4 separate regions of the Homo sapiens genome follow, and all the other regions are reported to be linked to region 1. The links are microRNA targets in miRTarBase. Many come from high-throughput screens and were not tested one by one. Region 1 holds a microRNA gene; each other region holds the end of a gene's coding sequence.
Evidence for each region. Region 1 holds the annotated microRNA hsa-miR-4711-3p (CGUGUCUUCUGGCUUGAU, at 1,033-1,050, shown strand). A microRNA usually pairs through its seed, bases 2 to 8, with sites in the 3' UTR of a target mRNA and lowers its output. Matches are read on the target gene's strand: a 7mer-m8 pairs with bases 2 to 8, a 7mer-A1 pairs with bases 2 to 7 and ends in A, and an 8mer does both.

Region 1 (4,000 bases):
CTGCAGTGAGCTGTTATGGTACCACTGCACTCCAGTCTGGTCACCAGAGCAAGACCCTGTCTCAGAAAAGAACTTATTCATGTAACCATACAACACCTGTTCCCCAAAACCCTACTGAAATAAATAAAAAGAAAAAGAAAAGAAAACTGATACTTGAGGAATGAGAAAGGCTGTGTTGTTGGAGCAGATAAGAGTGAAGGGAAGTGTGGGTGAAACAGAACCAAGAGGCAGGCAGGGCCATACCACGCGGACCCCACAGTCTCCTTTCCAAGGGCCCTGGGAAGCCAGAGCTACTGTCACCCAAAGGCTCTGCTGAGGTCAGCAAGGGCCAGGGGACATCAAGGTGGCTCTCTTATCACCCAGATATGAGAGATGCTCAGGAGGCAGAAAACATGCTTCAGTGACAGACCAGATGAGGGTGTTAGGGAGAGAAAGTTGTTAGAAGTAACTCTTAGATTTCTGGGCTTAGGCATGTGGCCCACTTAGGGGGATGCAGAGTGAGGGTTTGTCCTTACGGCTGTGTGCACAGAGCTCCTGTTTTTAGATCTCACAGGGCTTAATTCAGGGACATGGAGTAACTGAGAAGGAGAACCTCAGCCTTGCCTTGTTCTGAGAACAGCAGCAACAAAGAAAGAAATCAAGAGAAATAATGTTGCAAAAATTCCTCACAGACAAGGCCAAAGCTTACATCAGCCAGTCATGTGGGTTTTAAGCTTGACTATTTAGTAAGAAATGAATTTGTCCTTGTAAGTGTTAGAAGATCTGGCATTTACACCTGAGATGTGAAGGTGCTTGCTTTAAAAAACAAAACAAAACAAAAAAACAAAACAAAACAAAACAAAACAACAGCATAAGTTCTGAATATCCAGTCAGGAAGTTTAAATGCAGCACTGGACAATCAATACAGAGCCTGAGGCTCAGCCCTTCCCACAGAGACATCACCCAGTTTCCCGAGGGTAGTGAGGAGGAGATGGGGCAGGGGACACAAAAATGTGCATCAGGCCAGAAGACATGAGCCCTTTGGAAAGGTCTCGTGTCTTCTGGCTTGATGCACATTTGCTAGGCTTTATGCACAGTCACCATGGCCATCTGGAAACACAGAAACTTTTATTTGGGGGTGCACAGGCCCGGGGACTCCATGAGGAGAGTGTGTAGGACGTGGACAGGGAATTCCAGGGGAGCTCAGTAGGTGTTTAAGGCTGGAAGGGAGATGGAGAGGCCTGTAAGTAGTAGTAGCGAGTAGGGAAACCTGGATTAAACTCAGGCAATCTGGCTCCAGGAGAGAAAGTCCTTTGAAGCAGAGCGAATGAACAGAAGCCAGCAGGACTGAGCAGTAACAATTACGGGGAACAGGGGGAAGGTGCATCCAGGTACTCGGGGGCCATGTGATGGGTTTTGGAATTCTGTCTAAATTCCATGGTGGAAGCTCGTCGCGGGGATTTCAGGGTGCAAGAATTGCATGTTCCTGTGACGTCTCTGGTTCCAGCAGGAAAGCAGCCGGCAGCATGAGACCAGTTAGGAGATACCGCAGTGGTCTAGGTGGGGGCGACAGTGGTCTGCATAAAGTAATCAACTAACCAACTAGCTAAGCTCCTGAATACCTTCCTTCCCTTCCCCTTTCTTGCCCCCCTTTCCTCTATCTGCTTTGGTATCTCTGACCCCCCTTTTCTCTCAGCAGAAGGTAGAGGACAGAGTGATAAGAACTCCACCCTGCTCAGTTTGCCACAACATAGACAGACTTTGCCATTCCTCATCTTCATCTCTGAGGTGCCCTCCCTGCACTTCCCCATTCAGGATCATCCTTTTCTGTGCCTGCATGCTGACAGGGAGCAGCTGCTTGTATCTAGAACAACTCCCAGCTGTTCTTCCAACTTTTCTTAAGTGTTTCTTAGTGTCAATGCCTCTAATTAGTTAAAATAGGAAGGGGGGTGGTAAACAGAGGAGCACAAGAGAGGCCTAATTTTAGCTGTAGCCAAAAGGACTTTCCCCTAAATACACTGTGATCTCAAAATACTTAGCTAAGCCCATATGTACATGGCGGGGAGAGAATTTAAAGAGCTACAGAAGTAAAATTCTCTGGTCAAATGGGACAGCTCTGCCTCTTTGTACAACTGGATTAAAGAGAAAAGGAATGAAAATAAACTGAACCCTCACTCTGTGCCAGGAACTGGACCAGATGCTTTGTGTGCGGCAACTCAGCAATTCATTTAATCCTCACAGCAACTGGATGATGACGGGACTGGTATTACCTCCATTTTACAGATGAGGAAACTGAGGCTCGGTGAGGCTGATGCTACTCTGTGCAAGATGACACAGCTAATGAGAGAGCAGGATTTAAATCTGGGTCTCTCTGGCTTAACTGTATCTAGCAAGAGGAAGATGGGGCCTCAAACCTAGGATAAACAGGGCATTGGGAAGAGAGCTTAAACAGGGATTCGGAGCAGGGGATCAGAGCCAGATTCCAGGGGATTCTGACTCTTAGAACACTCAGAGGCATCATCATAGAAACTAGCAGGACTTACTCAGTGCCTCAACTTTATCCAATCCAGAAATCCCTCCTGGCCCTCACAAGGTATGCTGGAGGAATGACCAGACTGTCACTAACAACTTACAGGTAGATAAATCATATGGAGAATGCCCCCCACCCCCATCTCCTCTTCTCACTTCAGCAAAAAAAGGAAAGACAACAACAAAAAACAACTAACCCCACTGCTTCCTGTAATCAAAGGAATACGAACTGGCTAATCACCCAACCCCCTACAACCTTCTTAAGGTTAGGGGAAAATCTGGGCTCCTTCAGAAAAAAGGCCACCTGATAGGACTCATGGCGTCAGCTTCCTTCATCTCGGTTCATGCTTAAAAGGCCTCTTCACCGGGAAGCTTCCCAGTGAGGTTTTCCACGCACATCTGGACACTTTCCACAATAGGCCTTTGAAGAGGCCTGAAGTATTCCGGGAAAGTCTGCCTCACTGGGCTGAGGTTTAAAGAGCAGAAGCCCACATTTATTTTTCTTTCCCGCCTTCTTTGACAAAACTCCCCTCAGTGGTTTGTGGGCATTTGCAAAGCAGCCCTGATTTTCAGCTTGCTACTTCTAGGGCTGAAATCTTAAAGAAAATGAACAACAATAGAGCAAATTCAAAAGAGCATGGGTATCATCAAAGACTGTTTATGTGTTCTGCTCCTCCACCAGACTCTGAGTCGTGCTTAGTCATCTTTGTAGCAGGGAGAAAATGGACCTTGGCCTCAAGCCGACTTGCTCCATCACTCAGCATTGGTGACATTTTGTCGAGTCACTTAAACTGTCTGAGGCTCAGTTTCCTGACCTGTGAGTTAACAGGGGCCTGCCTTGCGTGGGCTACTAAACGTTCATGAGGTGGGTTAAGTAAATCACTTTGCATGTTGTCCGACATGGACTTTGACAGGTCTGTGCTGTCTCCTTGGCTGGGTCCCTCTCCACTATACAGGCTAACAGCTACTCATTGTTTACAACTCAACTCAGGTGATGGTTTTCTTCTCTGGCAATGCTTTACCTCTACCTCCCTCTTGCTTGGGCTAGATGAGGTATGTGTCCTCAGTGCTTTAAAACTTCCCTATTCTCTGATCTGTGGTTTATTGTTATTTTAGTTGTATGTCCACCATGCCCTGCCCCCACACCACTGTAATAATGTAGGCACCTGATGTCTTTCCACACTAAGCACAGTGCCTGGTATAACAATATGCTCAATGACTGCCAAGAGATTAATTAGTCTATTAGCAACTATTTATTGGCCCGCTTACTTTGAGTCAGGTGCTATTCTGGCTACTGAAGCTGTAGCTATGAATAAAACAGACATGGCCCCTGCTTTCATAAGCTTACATTCCAGTAGGGAAAGTCAGCAAGTACATTAAAGACATGTAGAGACTTGTGGTTATAGCTCCAACATGTAAAAACTGTCTAAGTCATTTATCCCATCCTTACTCCAAAAAAAAAAAAAAAAGCTAAGAAACTGCAAATCAGTGA
Region 2 (4,079 bases), not on the chromosome of region 1:
CCACAGAATGCGAAACAGTGGATAAGAGAGGGACTACTGTACATACTTTCGCCTAAGACAGTTCTGTATATTCTTCTGTTAACGGGGTAGCAAAAGCATATAGAAAGGTTTTGGGGGGATGCAGTGCATTGCTCTTCTGTAATGACAGTAATTTACTTCAAGACATTGCAGGAGAAGGGGTTAAAGGAGTAAAGGGGAGGAAGAGAAGGATTCATTTCATGCCTACCTGTACAGAGACACTTTCTTGCTTTCTACTTTTTTTTTTTTTTTTTTTTTTGAGACGGAATCTCACTCTGTGCCCAGGCTGGAGTGCAGTGGCACAATCTCGATCTCAACTCACTGCAACCTCTGTCTCCTGGGTTCAAGTGATCCTCCTACCACAGCCTCCCAAGTAGTTGGGATTATAGGCGCGTGCCACCATGCCCGGCTAATTTTTCGTAGTTTTAGTAGAGACAGGGTCTCACCATGTTGGCCAAGCTGGTCTTGAACTCCTGACCTCAAATGATCTACCCACCTTGGCGTCCCAAAGTGCTGGGATTATAGGCGTAAGCCACCATGCCTGGCTGCATTCTACTTTTAAACTTTGAACTAAATTTCATTAACAGTAAGCTTATTAATAAGCAAACCTTTTAAAATGTGGCATAAAAAGACTGGGCACAGTGGCTCAGGCCTGTAATCCCAACACTTTGGAAGGCGAAGGCAGATGGATCATGTGACTGCAGGAATTCGAGACCAGTCTGGGCAACATAGTGAAACCCTATCTCTACAACAAAATACAAAAATTAGCTGGGTGGAGGGGGTGCGCACCTGTGGTCCCAGTTACTCAGGAGGCTGAGGTGGGAGGAGCACCTGAGCCCAGGAGGTACAGGCTGTAGTGAGGCATGATCACACCACTGCACTCCAGCCTAGGAGACGGAGATGCTGTCTCCAAAAAACAAACAAAAAACGGGATAAAGGATAGCTGTAGGGGCTCTCTGGGGCTGTCTTAATGTCTGACCATCCATTATTTGAAAGTAATGTTCTCTATAGAGTTAATTACATAATGGCATTGTAATTACTAAGTGCCCTTAAAATGAGTATCAAAGGCTTTTACAAACTGGCAAATAAAATTTAACTCTGCATCTTTGTTAGGTACATGTTATAAAAGTTTTTTTGTTTTGTTTTTGTGTTTTTGAGGCAGGGCCTCACTCCATTACCCAGGTTGGAGTACAGTGTTGTGATCATAGTTCACTGCAGCCTCAAACTCCTAGGCTTGATCAATTCTCCCATCTCAGCCTCTTGAGTAGTTAGGAGTACAGGTGCTCACCACCACAGCTGGCTAACTTTTTAATTAGTTATTTACTTATTTTTAGAGACAGGGTCTCACTCTGTCGCCCAGGCTGGAGTGCAGTGGCATGATCTCGGCTCACTGCAACCTCTGCCTCCCGGGTTCAAGCAATTCTACTGCCTCAGCCTCCTGAGTAGCTGAGATTAGAGGTGCTTGCCACCATGCCTGGCTAACTTTTTGTATTTTTAGTAGAGACAAGGTTTTGCCATGTTGGCCAGGCTGGTTTCAAACTCCTGACCTCAAGTGATCTGCCTGCCTCGGCCTCCCAAAGTACTAGGATTACAGGCATGAGCCATCACACCTATTTATTTTTTGTAGAGATATGGTCTTGCTGTGTTGCCCAGGCTGGTCTTGAACTAATGGGCTCAACCAATCCTCCTGGCTTGGCCCCCCAAAATGTTGGGATTACAGGCCTGAGCCACCGCACTCGGACTTTTTTATTTTTGAGACAGGGTTTCACTCTGTCACCCAGGCTGGAGTGCAGTGACACGATCATAGCTCACTGCAGACTCGAACTCCTGGGCTCAAGAAATCTTCTGCCTCAGACTCCCGAGTAGTTGAGACTACAGGTATGTGCCACCACACCCGGCTGATTTTTGCATTTTTTGTAGAGATGAGGTCTATGTTGCCCAGGCTGGTCTTGAATTTCTGGCCTCAAGCGATCCTCCTTCCTCAGCCTCCCAAAGTGCAGGGGTTACAGGTGTGAGGCACTGCACCAGCCCCACATTACAAAGCTTTTAGAGCCAGGCCAGGAAGGTTCAAGGTTGTAGTACAACATGATCATGCTTGTGAAAAGCCACTGCAGTCCAGCCTGGACAACACAGCAAGACCTGCTTCTCTTAAAAACAAACAAACAAAAAACACCTCTTGGCTGGGCATGGTGGCTCATGCTTGTAATCCCAGCACTTTGGGAGGCTGAAGCAGGTGGATCACTTGAGGTCAGGAGTTCAAGAACAGCCTGGCCAACATGGTGAAACCCTATCTCTACTAAAAATACAAAAATTAGCTGGGCTTTACATAAAACCGGGCAGGGCATGGTGGCTCACATCTGTAATCACAGCTCAGTCTCCTGGGGACTACATGCCTGTAGTCGCAGCTACTCAGGAGGCTGAGGCAGGAGAATTGCTTAAACCCAGAGGTGGAGGTTGCAGTGAGCTGAGATCACACCACTGCACTCCAGCTTGGGTGACAGAGCAAGACTCCGTCTTAAAAAACAAAACAAAAAAACAAACAAAAAAACACCTCTTAAAAAGTTAATTTTACTAAGCCTTTTAAAGGAATAAGACAGCCTTCAGAAGTCAGGCACTGTGGCTCATCTGTAATCCCAGCGTTCTGGGAGGCTGAGGCAGGCAGATCACCTGAGGTCAGGAGTTTGAGACAGCCTGGCCAACATGGTGAAACCCTGTCTCTACTAAAAATACAAAAATTAGCCAGGTGTGGTGGTGCATGCCTGTAGTCCCAGCTCGGAGGCTGAGGCAGGAGAATCGCTTGAACCCCGGAAGTGGAGGTTGCAGTGAGCCGAGAATGTGCCAGGTGACACAGCTAGACTAGACTCCGTCTCAAAAAAAAAAAAATAGCTTTCAGAAAACAGCGTTACTCAAAATGCCTTGTGTTTAAATTTTAAAACTTTATTGGCTGACGGAAAACTGCCATACTTTCTTCCCACTACCATCCTGCTATTCCTGAATTCAATTTGCAAAAGAAGCATAGACCAAGAAGGGTTCCTTAGGTGCTCAACAGAATTTAAAGTGCGACAGATATGTTTACAATTAGAAAATAAAACTTCTCTCTCAGTTTAAAGAAATTTTTTTCTTTGTACATATTTTAAAGTACAGTTGTGTTTTCTTTTTAGGAACTGTGGAAAATGCCTATTTATAATGTCTTTGGAAGGATACCCCATTTTGTAATTGTGGTCTTCCAGATTCTTCTGGGTTAACATGTTGAGATGTATTCCACGGTACTCGCATTTCTGATAAATCCATATTGTCTCGAAGAGACTTCCTTTCAGCTTTCTGACATCTTATCAAGAATTAGTAGAGGGGCAAGAATTCTTGCCCTGTTAGTTTCCACAATGCAGCCATTTAACACCATCTCATCCAAAATGATGTGTACTTTATCCAAATTAAACATTATCTACGGTTATATTAAGGAAATTAGTTTAAAGTTAAAAATTATTAACATTCAGTAAAAATTTATGGCTTAACCTAGAGTGTTCCCAGTGTAAATTAGCCTAAGCATGAGGTTTTTTGTACAAAATTTCTGAAATTAAATTTAAAACTGGCATCCATATTAGAAATTGTTACCTTCATATATACATACCTAGTTTCACCTTGGTTAAGCTAACAGGATAAGTAGGGATAAAAATGAAACAGCTACATTTTTTAACCAAAGGGATAGGGGGTCTACTAAGTGCTAGAGAACACAGCAGTGTCATGTGGCAAGAGAATGACCTTAACTCAAAAATAGTGTTGTCTTCCCAGACAATAATAGTAACAGTAGCAACGATTTGTTGAATACTCCCGTTCCAGACAGTGTGTTGAGTTTCAGCCCTCTACAAATCTCTGATGTATGTTGTTACATATTATCCTCAGTTTACCCAGGATCAAACAGGTTCAAAGCATAGTCCAAGGTCACATGGCTAGTAAATGCCAGGTTTGAATTTAAACCCAAAGCTTGGGCTTGACTGCTCTGCTTATAGGCTCCTCAGGAGGGGCTAGACACCTCCCTCCTCAGCCCCCAAACCTCCACCCCA
Region 3 (4,079 bases), not on the chromosome of region 1:
AGAGTTTTTTTAATCCTATTGATTGTTGTTACATTTTGCTTCCCAGTACTCTGTTCTGCAGCTGACCAAAATGCTAACTGTTCTCTGGGAGAGAACAGGAGAGTTGTCACTCTCCTCTCCTATTCAACCTAAACTATTTCTTTCATCTTTCAGGCTTTTGAACACTTGCAGCAATTAGAATTAATAAAGCCCATGGAAAGAACTTCAGGAAATTCACAGAGAGAGTACCAGCTGATGAAACTGCTTTTGGATAATACTCAAATTATGAATGCTCTGCAGAAATATCCCAACTGTCCTACAGATGTGAGGCAGTGGGCAACATCCTCACTAAGCTGGTTATGAATATAACCAGTGACTTCAACTTTGGCATTTCATTCATACTTCTGTAGAGAACGGAAAACTATTGTCCATTAACATGATATGCTAAACATTCTATAAACATTCTTGTATTTATGTGAGACTTGCCCATCTACTGTCTTGGCTGTGTCTTGCCTTTTAATCATGAACAGTTACATGATTTATAATTTCACTGATTGAGATTACTTTGTAAGTAGCTGTTCAGAAGAATAAAATATGACTGTTTTAGGGACTAGACCATGTGCTTTTTTAACACTTATATATATAATGGTCTATTTGAAGAGCTCACTTCAACCTAACAGCTAGATGTCTTTACAAACCTTAAACCAAAGGAGTAAAAAAAACAATGGTAAGCACTGAAGTATAATAAGTAACCTTTGGTACAGCAGGTTTGCTGCAGTGTTTTTTTCTGTCCACATGCAAATTTTGGATTCTATCCCAGACCCAGGTTTTCTAGTTCAGAAGACTAACCAGCTTAGTCAGAAGATGGTTCCATGGAAGAAAAAGGCCAAGGAGTTTGAAGATTTTTCTTCTAGACATCTCAAAATGTGGTACTCATACCATCCACATCAGAATCCCTTGTAGGATTTTCTAAAATTACAGATTGTTGAGCCTACCATAGGTCAAAAGGACTGGAATTTTCCTTCTTAACAAGTATAGTCATGGCACCACGTAACATTTTGGTCAATGACATTGTATAAAGGGTGGTCTCATAAGATTATACCATATTTTTACTGTACCTTTTCTATGTCTAAATATACAAATGTTTTACCATTGTGTTACAGTTGCCTACAGTATGATTACAGTAACATTCTGTACAGTGCTATAGCTGAAGAGTAATAGGCTAGGCTATCTGTATAGCCTAAGTGTGTAACAGGCTATATACATATCATCAGGGTCTGTGTAAGTATACTCTGTGATGTTCATACAGTGATGAAATCACCCAAAGACACATTTCTCAGAACGTAGCCCCATCATGAAGTGACGTGACTACCAGAGATTTCTGGAAAAGCACTCCCAAAAGTAATGAGATGTGTATGGCAATGTTAACTGAACCTGTTTGTATTAAAAAGTAAATCCCTATGAGGAATGTGGAAATGTCCGTCAAAGCATTGTCTTTTAAGTAAGTTCCAAGATCCATGAATTAACAGAGGCATATATTTAAAATGAAATTTAATGAGCACTTAGTGACTTCATTTGTTCAAGAATATTTGATTTCCTATTGTGTGCATGGGAGGTTTACAAAAGACAGACTGTCCCTATGCTTGTGCAGCTTACAATCTATTTAACTATTAGAGGCCCTGTGAGATGTAGGCAGTTATTTACAGATGAGAAAACTAACACAGCAGTGGCAATGCTGGGAATGGCCAACAGGCTTGGAATTCAACTCAGTTTAGCACCAAAGCCAGTGCTATTAAGACCTGAAGTTCAACAGTGGATTCCTTACCAAATAGTTTTTAAAGTATGCTCTAAGGAACAATGTTTTAATGAAATCTTGGATACAAAGTGGAATAAAAGGTTTCTGAGCATAAAGTAGCTCTTCAGTAGTTACAACCTATTCTTTTGCATACATAGCCTTTCCTTCCCTGCAAAAAGTTAAGCCTGCTAAGTATTCAGATCCCTGTCATTTACTTCTCAGCAGTCTCATTCAAGCTAAGGCTTGCATACTCAATCTGTGCCGTAGTCTACACATTTTTAGGGGATATTTCACCAAAATACTTGACATGGTAACATCACTATTATATACTAGAAGCAAGAATTTTACACTTATGCTCTAAGTGATCCTTTTAAAAATTTTCTGAACTATTTGAGGAAAGTATTATTTGTCTTAAAGGGTAACAGCCTCATGAAATGACTTGAGGATTCCAATTTCTTATTAGCTTAAGATGTCACTTAAAAGCTGACAGCCCTCATCTGTCTCATTGGCTACATAAGAGCTGCAGAAGATCCATCAATAACCAAGTATAAAGAAAGATTTTAAGACTAAGTACCAATTGAGGTAAACATGAAACCGTTATAAAGCAAATTAAAAAAAAATACATTAGGAAAAGTTACACAAATGAAGTGTACGCCTATTATATTCCCAAGGCATTTTTGTGGGGAGGAACAGTGCTGCTTGTTGGCCTTTCCATATTCCCTCATACAAAAATGCTAAAATCTATTCGCAAGAGTTTTGAGCTAACTTCGTCTCTTAAATTGCTTTAATTGTCATCAATAAAAACAAATATGAAAAACCCTAGTTTAAAAAGCGGTTCAAGAATAATGTAAACTTATACATATAGCTTATTTTCTTCATTTACTAGAGGAGGAAAAATAGAACCAAAAAATGCATGAACTCCTGCTTTTCAATCTGATTACCTCAAACTGAAAAGCAGGTGAAAGGAGGAATATTTCAGTGTGTTTTTACATCTGAATCCAAGGGATCCAAGTGGCCCAGCAGAAACGGAATTCTTGTTAAAATGACTGATTCTCGTGCATGTGAAAGGCTCTGGGGAATGAATACCTGTTTGGTCCAAACTTACTGTATCATAATGCTGTATATGTTGAAAACGTAATACCTGTTAATGTCCTAATGAATCACGTTTTGCAGAAAACACCGTAAGAAACACTTCAGTCTTTCTGTAGTTTCCATGCATATTTCACCATGGTTCGCACTCTGATCCTCATCTGGTTTAGAAAGCAATTCAGTTTCTTTCAAACCACCATAACCTAAGTGCTGCCCCATCCTTCACCTTTACCCTAGAAAATCTGAGAATCCATTGGTGTGTACTGTGTGACACAATGCCAACAAGCCTCTGGTTTCTAATACTGGCAGGACCAACACACATACTTTAGTGGGAATATAATCTGTTTAGACGATAATAGAGGGAAATGCCATAATTAACAAATCTCCCTTCACTCACCACTATCCTCATTCTTGCAGTTGTCAAGGTGTAAGCCTCACTGTAAGTTACAAAGCTACCACTCCCCTCTTTAAGAACACATAGCTTAGGATTGCCTTGGCGATGTGGGCTCTTTTTTGGTTCCATATGAACTTAAGTAGTTTTTTCCAATTCTGTGAAGAAAGTCATTGGTAGCTTGATGGGGATGGCATTGAATCTGTAAATTACCTTGGGCAGTATGGCCATTTTCACAATATTGATTCTTCCTACCCAAGAGCATGGAATGTTCTTCCATTTGTTTGTATCCTCTTTTATTTCCTTGAGCAGTAGCTTGTAGTTCTCCTTGAAGAGGTCCTTCACATCCCTTGTAAGTTGGATTCCTAGGTATTTTATTCTCTTTGAAGCAATTGTGAATGGGAGTTCACTCATGATTTGGCTCTCTGTTTGTCTGTTGTTGGTGTATAAGAATGCTTGTGATTTTTGTACATTGATTTTGTATCCTGAGACTTTGCTGAAGTTGCTTATCAGCTTAAGGAGATTTTGGGCTGAGACGATGGGGTTTTCTAGATATACAATCATGTCGTCTGCAAACGGACAATTTGACTTCCTCTTTTCCTAATTGAATACCCTTTATTTCCTTCTCCTGCCTAATTGCCCTGGCCAGAACTTCCAACACTATGTTGAATACGAGTGGTGAGAGAGGGCATCCCTGTCTTGTGCCAGTTTTCAAAGGGAATGCTTCCAGTTTTTGCCCATTCAGTATGATATTGGCTGTGGGTTTGTCATAGATAGCTCTTATTATTTTGAAATACACCCCATCAATCCCTAATTTATTGAGAG
Region 4 (4,079 bases), not on the chromosome of region 1:
ACAGATCATCAGGCATTAGATTCTCATGAGAAGCTCGCAACCTAGATCCCTTGCATGCACAGTTCACAATAGGGTTCACACTCCTATGAGAATCTAATGCTGCCGCTGCTCTGACAGGACGCAGAGATCAGGTGGAATGTGAGTGATGGAGCAGCTGTGAATACAGATGAAGCTTCGCTCACTCGCCCACCACTCACCACCTGCTGTGTGGCCTTGTTCCTAACAGGCCATGGACCAGTATCGGTCTGTGGCCCAGGGGGTTGGGGACCCCTGATTTATTTAATATTCCCCATTGTTGGACACTGTGGTTAATTTCTACTTCTTGCTTATCAGTCCCGTTAATATGGGCATCTTTACCACCTCTGAGTGCTTGCCCCAACCCCGCCTGGGCCCAGGGATAGACAGTCGGATACCACTCAGTCCTGCCCGCAAGGAGCCCACAGTCTGGTTTCAACTAGTCTCTTACTGGCTTTGTGGTTTCAGGTCGGATGAACCCTCTCCCCAGTGGCTAAAGGAATTGAAATCCAAGAAGAGGCAAAGTCTTTATGAGAACCAAGTTTGACCAGGTATGAAGGGGCTCTGTTGGGGAACCTGGGAAGAGCCCTGCAGTCACAGGAATGGGGAACTCAGGGGGGCCACGCTTCAGAGACTGGGGCTGTTGTACCCAAGGAAAGAGGCTGTGTAAGGGGAAGAATGAGGGGTGGGGGGTGTTCTGAGTTCCTGTAAAGAGGATGGTTATGTCTGTTTCCATTTAGGGAGAAAACAAAGCTGGGCTGCCTGGAGTGGGTGAAAGGTACCAGGCCAGGAGGCAGGTGACTGGGGCTCTGGTCTCATGCACTTGGCTGACCCTTCTAGCTGCATCACAGTCCCCTCTGATAAAACAAAAGGGCGGGGACATCAGAGGTTAGCTTAATTAGAAATGGTTACTTTTTTTTTTTTTTTTTTTTGAGACAGAGTTTCGCCCTTGTCACCAAGGCTGGAGTGCAATGATGCAATCTCGGATCTTGGCTCATTGCGGCCTCTGCCTCCCGGGTTCAAACGATTCTCCTGCCTCAGCCTCCTAAGTAGCTGGAATTACAGGTGCCTGCCACCATGCCCAGCTGATTTTTATATTTTTTGTAGAGATGGAGTTTCACCATGTTGGACAGGCTGGTCTCGAACTCCTGACCTCAGGTGATCCATTCACCTCTGGCTCCCAAAGTGCTGGGATTATAGGCGTGAGCCACTGTGCCCGGCCAGAAATGGTTACAGTTTTTATAGGGGGAGTGTTTCATATACAACCTATGTAGTTAAAAATGAATTTGAAAAAATATACATTAAAAATTACGATTAGATAGGCCCTGGTGTAAGTTGCAAATGACTGAACATCATGAACTTAAGTTTCCTCATCTGTAAAATGGGTTAGCAGTGTCCACACCACCGAGTTGTCCTCAGGGCTCACTGAGAATGCACCTGTGGTGCTTGACTGAGTGCTGCCTGTTTCTCCTCAGTATAGGAGCTCATGGTACGTGCACCATCAAAGTCAGCGTTGATGTGATGAGCACAAGAGACTCACCATCCCTTATCCACAAAGCCAAATTCCAGAAAGCCCTGCAAAACAAAGCTTTTTCCTAAGTCAGTGGTAAAACCTGACCTGAGTGAATATAATTCTACTTTGACTCTATTTTCCCCACTTTATATGAATGTTCATAATACACTGCAGGAATATTATCTGCTTGATTATGGTGGTGTTACATATGTATATATATACATATGTGTATATATTACATGATTATGTATGATGCATGTGTGTATGTATAATAAATACTAAAAATTATAAATTCCCAAATAAAACTATGCTCAAGGGATTTGGATAAGGGATCGGGACCTGTGTTTATTTTGTGTTTGGTGCAGTACATGTAATATCTCATTTAAGCCTCCAGCAACCCCTTTGAGGAAACTGAGGCTCAGAATTGAGACTGGAACCCTGACCTGACCCTAAATTTCATGTTGGTTTCACTGTATTCCATGCCTGCCACCCTCCTCACCTCCCCTTTCCACCCAACACAAAAAATCTCTTTTGTGACCTTAGGCTTCTAGGGGTGACTTCATTGGAGAATATCAGGTGAGATTTTAAGGACTGAGGGTAGAGAGCAATGGAGCCAAATGTTCCCACTGCTGACACCAGTACTGTCCCTTCCTCTCCAGGCAGGGAACACTGCCACATCTACGTAACAGAAGCCTTAACCATCAGAACCCGCAGACGAGGCCGAGCTGCTGCCGTTTCTTCCTGCACAACGCTTACGTGCCTGGGCCCTTCCCATTGGATTGAGAACGCTATCCAGTGCCCCTGTCCTCGCCAGGCTCTCCCTGGATCCAGACGGGAAGACCCAACCTCCAGGAGCACTCGCTCATCTCCCCAGACAGCACTTCAGGCTGGGAAAGGAGCCAGGCTGCCCAGAAACGTCCATGTGGGTGGTTTTGCTTTTTATGTAAAAATTTGCATTTCTACCTATTTTAGACACCTTCATCAGCTCCAAGAACATCAGTGTGAGGCTGGAATTGTCTCCCCAGGTTCTGAAAAACACCTGCATTTGTGAAAGCACCTCCTCACCCGACCCCGGGGCAGGTCTTTTTTTGGAAGGACATTTCCAAGGAAGATCAAACTGTTCATTTTCTGCTGTAGTCTCGGTGCAGGGTATTACCGCTGGGTTGAGGTTTTCTATTCTTTTTTTTTGGTGAGTTCCTTCTTCCCCTTGAGGAATCAGCAGTTCCAATTTTTAAACATACTCTCCCTGATTATGTGTATTTCTCTTTCTAGTGGGGCTGTGTGCATCGTTGGCCTATGTTATTGTATGTCATTTTTGTTTGCTTTAGAAGGCGATAAAGCAATAATTCAGCTAATTTTCTTTGAAACTTGATAGGTATATATGTGTTTACGTTAAAGGACAGGAGGAAAGATGTGCGAATAATTTGTTCTGAAGTATCCAGTCACCTCAGGTTATCTTATCCCTATCCAAGCTGTTTAGAAGTTATAATTGTCACTCTTGTATTTATTTCCATGGCTTCTTTTCATTTGAGCTCTGGTTTCGGTAGGGTGACCTTTGCCCCTTGGCCTTAAGGGTTCATAAACTGCAGCCCAAGTGGTGGTGCCTTTGCTTATGAATCATCAGACCTGCCCTAGTAATCTTTTTCTCCAGAGTCTTCTTTGAACATGACGTGGGCTGCTGGCATGGAGGAGTTGTTCCAAACTGGCCTCAGAACAGATGCATGAATGAAGGGTACTTTTTGCTTTTGCTCACCTCATTTTCCTTCATCTTTCTTGATGAATCCATTATTTGCAAATGCTGTCAAAACATGCTTTCCTTCTCCCTGGCTACCTCTCAGGAGTTCATTTGTCTCTCTGTCTCAGCTTCCTCCCTCATCTTCCTTTACCCCTCTTCTCTGTCTTAGTGGGTGGATGGGCATGGATAGAAATCCTCTGTTTCTTTAGGTTAGGATAAACACCTGGGCCCTGGTGAGGCAGTTGCTGTTCAGCACCAGGGACAGCAACTGCAGGGCTGTGAGGCCGGAGCCCACCTTGTGTCCTGTTCGATGAGCTTTGGTTACTGATGAGCAATTGCCAGATCATGTCACCCACCCAGCCTTTTACACCTGGGAGCCTCATGCATCTGGGTTTGGGAGTTTGGCCCTGCTGATGATAGTTTGTTTTCTCTTCATTCCCTGAATTAGTCATCAGTTCTCCGTGGCCATTTGGGGATTCATGCCTGCAACTGCTTCAGTCGAATTCTTTTTTAAAGATCCAGTTTATGTTTTATAATAATTTTGATCTTATGGCTTTCAACGTCAATAGGATCCCCTTTAAAAATACCCTGCTAGTGTTTTGTTTTGTTTTGTTTTTCTGAGACAAGGTCTTACTCTGTTGCTCAAGCTGGAGTGGAGTGGCACGATCATAGCTCACTAACACCTGGGCTCAAGTGATTCTCCCACCTCAGCCTCCCAAGTAGCTGGGACTACAGGTGTATGCTACCATGACCAGCTAATTTTTAAATATTTTTGTAGAGACAAGGGTCTTACCATGTTGCCCAGGCTGGTCTCGA

Region 2: miRTarBase lists AP4S1 as a target of hsa-miR-4711-3p. The part of its 3' UTR that is shown has no 7-base or 8-base seed match.
Region 3: miRTarBase lists ORC4 as a target of hsa-miR-4711-3p. Seed matches in the 3' UTR shown: 8mer at 1,304-1,311.
Region 4: miRTarBase lists KIAA1671 as a target of hsa-miR-4711-3p. The part of its 3' UTR that is shown has no 7-base or 8-base seed match.

The regions. Positions count from the first base shown.
Region 1 is chr1:59,730,285-59,734,284 of GRCh38, reverse strand. MIR4711 (microRNA 4711) reads left to right here and starts at 989; the gene lies at 989-1,058. The region is part of intron 14 of FGGY (FGGY carbohydrate kinase domain containing); the gene reads right to left. RefSeq lists an enhancer at 3,074-3,368.
Region 2 is chr14:31,092,288-31,096,366 of GRCh38, reverse strand. AP4S1 (adaptor related protein complex 4 subunit sigma 1) reads right to left here. Exons shown (of 6, transcript NM_001128126.3): 6 at 1-3,460. The coding sequence ends at 3,332. Among named protein-coding and RNA genes, the nearest start is that of STRN3, 68 kb to the right of the region's middle.
Region 3 is chr2:147,931,773-147,935,851 of GRCh38, reverse strand. It overlaps ORC4 (origin recognition complex subunit 4), which reads left to right. Exons shown (of 14, transcript NM_181741.4): 14 at 154-4,079. The coding sequence ends at 342. Among named protein-coding and RNA genes, the nearest start is that of ORC4, 87 kb to the left of the region's middle.
Region 4 is chr22:25,190,219-25,194,297 of GRCh38, forward strand. KIAA1671 reads left to right here. Exons shown (of 13, transcript NM_001145206.2): 12 at 484-566; 13 at 2,188-4,079. The coding sequence ends at 562. Among named protein-coding and RNA genes, the nearest start is that of CRYBB3, 7.6 kb to the right of the region's middle.